2 separate regions of the Homo sapiens genome follow, and region 1 is reported to be linked to region 2. The links are microRNA targets in miRTarBase. Many come from high-throughput screens and were not tested one by one. Region 2 holds a microRNA gene; the other region holds the end of a gene's coding sequence.
The links. Region 2 holds the annotated microRNA hsa-miR-3934-3p (UGCUCAGGUUGCACAGCUGGGA, at 2,079-2,100, opposite strand). A microRNA usually pairs through its seed, bases 2 to 8, with sites in the 3' UTR of a target mRNA and lowers its output. Matches are read on the target gene's strand: a 7mer-m8 pairs with bases 2 to 8, a 7mer-A1 pairs with bases 2 to 7 and ends in A, and an 8mer does both.

Region 1: the mRNA of PARVB is a reported target of hsa-miR-3934-3p. Seed matches in the 3' UTR shown: 8mer at 3,331-3,338.

The regions. Positions count from the first base shown.
Region 1 is chr22:44,168,137-44,171,659 of GRCh38, forward strand. PARVB (parvin beta) reads left to right here. Exons shown (of 13, transcript NM_013327.5): 13 at 466-3,523. The coding sequence ends at 542. Among named protein-coding and RNA genes, the nearest start is that of PARVG, 11 kb to the right of the region's middle. RefSeq lists enhancers at 1-70, 1,961-2,482.
Region 2 is chr6:33,697,247-33,700,290 of GRCh38, reverse strand. MIR3934 (microRNA 3934) reads right to left here and starts at 2,163; the gene lies at 2,057-2,163. It overlaps UQCC2 (ubiquinol-cytochrome c reductase complex assembly factor 2), which reads left to right. Exons shown (of 4, transcript NM_032340.4): 4 at 2,541-3,044. The coding sequence ends at 2,638. RefSeq lists an enhancer at 1,760-2,735.

The DNA of each region.
Region 1 (3,523 bases), not on the chromosome of region 2:
TCACAGAGCAAGTGAAATGAACAAGGTGTCTGATTCCCAGGAAGGTTCTTGTCCACATAAAGAAAGTGGCCCAAGACTTCCAGGGCCCCAGAGGGAGCTGTCGGGTCCATTAAGTGTTACTGGGGTTTTTGGTCCCGGTAAGTGTCATTAGCCATGTCCCCCAACCGGTTCTTAGACATGTCCTGATGCAGATCCAGGAGGGGCTGTGGGAGTGTCTCTGTTCTTGTCACCCCAGGTGCCTGTCCCCGCAGGGTGTCAGCCCGCGCCAGGAGCTCTCACAAAACCTGTGTGTCTGGGGAGGCACTGCCCAGAGCGTCCTGGACATGGTGGTGGCCAGTCTTTAAGGGGAAGCGCTGTGTGTGGATGCGGCAGCTGGTGTCATGCTGGAGACGTGGCTTCTGAGAGTACCTACCGCAATGACAGGAGGATGGCACGCCTCTGAAGTTTCTCTGTTTCCTTCTGCAGACGTGGTTAACTTGGACCTCAAATCCACCCTGAGGGTTCTTTACAACCTGTTCACCAAGTACAAGAACGTGGAGTGACGGGGGAGCTGTGGATGGTGGCAGGAGTGTCCCAGCAAGAAAGGCGGCATCCGTCTGTGCCCTGTGCCTTTCCAGGGAGCCAGGCGCCATGGGCTTCTGGTCCAAGCTGTGTTGACTGTCATCCCCACCCCACCCCTACCTCACGCCTGCCCCACCCCCTGCCTCTTTTGGTTGTTGTTCTTAATCTCCTCTCCATGTAGTTCCCAGTGGGCAAGAGCCTTTGAAAATGCAGGATTCTAAACACTCGTGCTTGCGTTTGAAGCCTCGCGTCACTCAGTCGCGTGGGATGATGAGTCCGTTGTTGTCTGCCTTGGCCGAAAGATGAAAAAAAGCCTGAACCCCAACCCCCAGCTGGTTGAGAGCACCCTGCATTCTGCCTCATGGTGCAGTTAGCGATCACAGGCCTTCAGAAGTACAACATCAGCTCAGCAGGAACGCCGGCTCCCCGAGGACCCAGGCTTGACGATTCACCGGGGATCTCCTGGGCTGGGCTCTCCTTGGAAGTGAGGCCTTTTATTAAAAATAAAAGGGTTTTGCAGTTTGAAAAACTTTAAAGTCCCAGAAGCTTAGATGTGACATGGGTGTCCTCCACCCACATTCCTATCACTTCTTGGTCACTCGTTTTAATGTAGGTTTTGCACAAACATCCAAGACTCAGGATGGCCCAGCTCCCACAGTCCTTGAAAGGAGCTGTCTGCTGGGGACGTTTCTTAATTTCTTGCTGTGGTTGAGGGGCTGGGTCTGGAGATGGCTCTAATTGTGCTGCTTGAGACAGCTTGGGTCACAGCTTTCCCCTTCAGAGGCCCTTTTTGGGAATGAATGCATCTTTGGAAACTTTAAAATGAGGGGGGTGCATTGGTTCACTGGCACTGTGTAGTAAAGTGCCACAGGGGAGTGGCTCAGACATCAGAGAATTACATCCTCAGGCCTTTCGCCTTGGCTTGTAGATGCCGGCTTCTCCCCGTGTCTTCACATGGTCTCCCCTCTGTGTGTCTGTGTCCTCACCGCCTCTTTTATTTTATTTTTTATTTTTGTTTTTATTTTTTGAGACAGAGTCTCGCTCTGTCACCAGGCTGGAGTGCAGTGGTGTGATCTCAGCTCACTGCAACCTCTGCCTCCCAGGTTCAAGCGATTCTCCTGCCTCAGCCTCCCAAGTAGCTGGCATTACAGGCAGGTGCCACCACACCTGGCTAATTTTTGTATTTTTAGTAGAGACGGGGTTTCACCATGTTGGCCAGGATGGTCTTGATCTCCTGACCTCATGATCTGCCTGCCTCAGCCTCCCAAAGTGTTGGGATTACAGGCGTGAGCCACTGTGCCCAGCCTATTTTTTTTTTTTTTTTTGAGACAAGTTCTCACTGTGTCACCCAGGAGTAAAGTGGTGCCATCTCAGCTCACTGCAGCCTTGATCTCCCAGGCTCAATTGATCCTCCCACCTCAGCCTCCCAAGTAGCGGGGACCACAAGTGCACACCACTAGGCCCATCTAATTTTTGTATTTTTTGTAGAGATGGGGTTTCACCATGTTGCCCAGGCTGTTCTCAAACCCCTGGGCTTGAGCGACCCACCCACCTCAGCCTCCCAAAGTGCTGGGATTATAGGCATGAGCGGACATGCCCAGCCTGCACCCCTCTTTTTAGAAGGGCTGCGGTCCTATTGGATTAGGGCCCACTTATATGACCTCATTTAATCTTGATTACCTCCATAAAGACCCTGTCTCCAAATACCATCACATCAGAGGTGCTGGGGTTAGGACTTCAGCATGTGGATTTGTGGGGGGCATAATTTGCCTTGTACCGGGAGGATATGAAGTGTTCATGTTACTCTCCCTGTAGCCCTGAGAGCATCTCCCTTAGAGTATCCTATAAAAGGAGTCGCTGCTCACTCAGTTATGGGTTGTTCACCCCCTCGCTCACCCCAGCTCTGCAGAGAACTGGGGATCCCATCGGCCATGCTTTCTGGGCTGGCCTCTGGTCGCAGTCAGTCCCTCGCTGTGGCGCCCCCCCCTCCCCCAGCTCCTTCCCAGGGTGATGACCCGCTGACCCCCTGGGGTGCACCTGCTGCAAAGCAGCCCCCTTCCTTGGCATCTCTCAGCATTCTCCGTAGTGAGCCTGGCCTTTCTGATCTTGTTAGCTTTTTGTCTTCCTGCCGCAGATCAGAGCTTTGGAGTAAGTTTTGATATGAAATCGAATGCCAACACCGAAGTTTTAGAAAACAGTTTAATATTCCCTCTCAGTTCCGGCTGTTGCTAGGCTGGGGATGGGTTCAGAATAGCCATTTTGATGGAGGTGATTTCCCAGCAGGGGAAAGAAATAATTAAAACAGCATTACGGTGTCTCTTGCGGGATGCAGTGACATTCAAAAGCCACACTGACAAAAAGCCTGGGGCTGGAACGTTCTGTGCTGCCTGCATGGCATGTACAGGACCGCGGCCCCCTGGAGCTGGTGGAGTGGCCCAGCCTTGCCCTGCTCACAGGTGGACCTGGAGAGGGCACTGTGCCTTCCCAGGGATTGGGATTTGAAAAGAACAGAGCTTGGCCAGGTGCGGTGGCTCACGCCTGTAATCCCAGCACTTTGGGAGGCTGAGGCAGGTGGATCACTTGGGGTCAGAAGTTCGAGACCAGCCTGGCCAACATGGTGAAACCCCATGTCTACTAAAAATACAAAAATTAGCCATGCATGGTATGTATGCCTGTAATCCCAGCTATTCGGGAGGCTGAGGCAGGAGAATTGCATGAACCCAGGAGGTGGAAGTTGCAGTGAGCTGAGATCATGCCACTGCACTCCAGCCTGAGCAACAGAGTGAGACTCTGTCTCAAAAAAAAAAAAGAAAGAAAAAAGAAAAAGAAAAGAACAGAGCTGTGATTTTCAGCCAAAATGAGCAGCCCTGGCCCATTCTGTGTCATCAGAGGGGAGAGGACGGTTACTGTGGGAGGGGGCTTCAGCTTCTCAGGGAGGTCCTGGCGGCCCCCATCTAGTAAA
Region 2 (3,044 bases):
TGACCATATACTGTGGAGAAGGTCAAAGGCGTTATTTAAAAAAGAAAATCTATCTTTAGGGCTTTTAAATTCAAGGCTGGGCATCAGGGAACAGAGGAATACCTATTTGCCAAATGGAAGTAGTTGAAATCAGGATGGAAGGAAAATAATTTTATTTTTATGGTCTTAAGAGGGCTTTATAAACAATGAAGGTTTTAATTAAAACAAAAAACCATTCAATAAACGTGTTTGGGGATATCCGCCTAAGAGTTATGTGACCCAGGGGACGTGGTCTGTGGGTTAGATATGAGTTTAACTAGGTATGTTTTAGAGTCATTGATAGACTCTGATTATCAAGAAAGGAAACATCCTGCCAAGCCCGTCCTTTCCTTACTTCCCTATCTCCATTGTCCCTAAGGAGGGGGGCCGGAGAGCCAGGGATGAAGTAGGCAGGTACTGGAAAATTACTATTTTTGTTGCCAAGTATATTATATACAAAAATAGGTTAACCTTTTCTGGGAGGGCATGGCCCTGACACATTTCCTTCTGGTATTCTAGAAATGTGTCTTTCCTCTTCTTCTGGCAGCCTTCAGCAACTTAAGTTTTGAGGATTTGGGCTTCTAGAAAACTCTCTTCTGAGATTAAAACCTGGTGGTGTCACCTGCTATTACATGTCAACTCTAACCCTATTTTTATTCCAGTACTCTCTGGGAAACTGTGGTGAAGATATTTTGGCCAGGCAGAATCACTTTATTGGCAATTTTTTTTAATGTGTAAATTTACTCCTATATCCCTGGGTCCGTGTAATTAGCAGCATTGATGCACATTATTGTGAGGGCCCTGGACAGTTTGAGCAAAGTTTGAACTTGAAGTGAGGGCGGAAGTAAGTTCCAGAGGCCCTGCCTCTGCCCTCTGTTTTGTTCACCTCAGGGCAGCCTCTGCAAGTGGAAAACAGGCAGCAACGAAGGCTGGGAGATAGTCCCGCCATTGGTCCGCGCTGCAGCTTGTTCTGGCAGCGAGTTTAGTTCAGGAAATTTGCTGAGAATTTGTTTTCACAGCAAGCCTCATATTTTTGTTGCAAATTGTGTGGCGTAAGCTTACCAAATGTTTCCTCTGACAGGACAAGAAAAGACCTGCAGCACCTTGTAGTGAGAGGCTTTGAGGGCCTGGCAAGTCTGAAATGTGCTGTGTTCTGGGTTATGTGTGTGTCCACCCTGGGATTGGGGTCATGGAAAGCGCCTAAGGGAGGCCTCAGTGTCCACCTGGACACTGGAAACATGGACTTCTGGAAAAGCTCCAGAGCAGGGGCTTTTTTCTGTTACCTTTTTTGGTCAGAAAAGATACTCTTTTTTTCTCCAGTAGTTTTGTTAACGTGAAAATTTAGGCTGGTAAAGCAAAACAATATTATAAGAATATCTAAAATTTAACATGCACGTAAAATTAGATTTCATGGAACATTAGCCCTAGAGACTTTAGACAAATGGTTCCGTACTGGGGGGATGGTTTTGCCCCCCAGGGGACATGTGGCAATGTCTGGAGACATTTTTAGTTGTCACAACTGGTGGTGCGGGCAGCGGTGCTACTGGCATTAGTGGGTAGAGGCCAGGATGCTTTGAAACAGCCTTCAGTGATGCACAGGCCAGCCCACGACGAAAAATTATCTGGCCCAAAGTGTTGGTAGTGCCAAGGCCAAGAAACCCTGCTTTGGTTCCTGGGTGTAGGGACGTGTATGTTCTTAAACAAGAGCCCCTCCCGCCTGCATTGTGGTGGATGATGGCTGCCTTTTCATTGAGTGCGGGCTGTGTGCCAAGCGAGTTACCTCCATGCTTTTCTTTAATCCTTACAACTTTTGAGGTACGTGTGGTTTTTTTTTTCTTACTTTTTCACCTCTCCCCAAGTTGTCTGCAGATGTGTGTTTTTATCTTCATTTTACAGATGAGGAACCCGAAGCGTAGAGGGTTAAGTAATTTGCTTGAGGGGACCCAGAGTGGGAGATGATGGGCTCGGATTCAGGCCCAAGGCCATCCCCCTCCCAGTGCCTGCTCAACTCCACAGCATGTGCTGAGTCCACACACCAGGATTCAAATCCCTGCTCCACTTCCCAGCTGTGCAACCTGAGCAAGTTACTTCACTGCCTCCTGCCTCAGTTTCCACACCTGAAAACTGGGGACAGGAAGGGCTGTGTGGAGCAGGCCAAATTTTGCGATGAAGCATCTGGGTCTGTGGGTTGCACAGCGGACAGCGCAGGGCCATTTCTTTGCCCTCATACGGAGCAGGGCAACGAGCAGCACATCCCGCTTTGATGCCGAGGGTGAGGAGAGGGCAGGAGACCACTGACAGCGTGCTGGGCACAGAGTCTGGCACACAGTGCTCAGTCCCCGCAAGCGGTCACTTCTGTTACCTGTTTGATCTGCTCTTCAGGAGCTGGGTCTCCACCTTTTTCAGGAACACACTGTGTGAAAAGCAAGCCATGCTTGTGTCGGGAAAGCCCAGTGGGTCCAATCTATGTCATCAAGTTTTAGACTTCAGTCCCTCTCTCTTTTTGTCTTCCCCTTTTGCAGACACCTTGGAAGAGCTTAAGGAAATAGATAAAGGCATGTGGAAGAAACTGCAGGAGAAGTTTGCCCCCAAGGGTCCTGAGGAGGATCATAAGGCCTGAGCTCAGGCCTTACCTCGTGCACATACCTAGGTGTGGAGTCTTGTACATTGCCATCGTCAATAAAACTGCCCCAGTTTCCCCTTGACCTTACGGTTTGGGAATCTCCTCTAGCTTTCCCAGAAAGGAAGCCCTTGCTGCTCTAAAGAAAGTTTCAGCCTGAGAAGGGATGGTGATTGAGCTATCTGCTGTGACTGCTGCTCAGGGTAGGGAAATCTCCTGGGGAGAGGAAATGCAGGTTTCCCTCTGGGCCTGATGAGGGTAATGGGGCCTCGGCACAAGGTGCTTCCTGCATTGCCACGGGAGCCCCCGCCCCTCTGGCACGGGTCTGGTGTCTCCTGGCAAGATACTCAGGCTCCCTTTTGTTGTAGGAGCTCCTGGGAGGAAGCCAAAAATAGCAGTAAATACT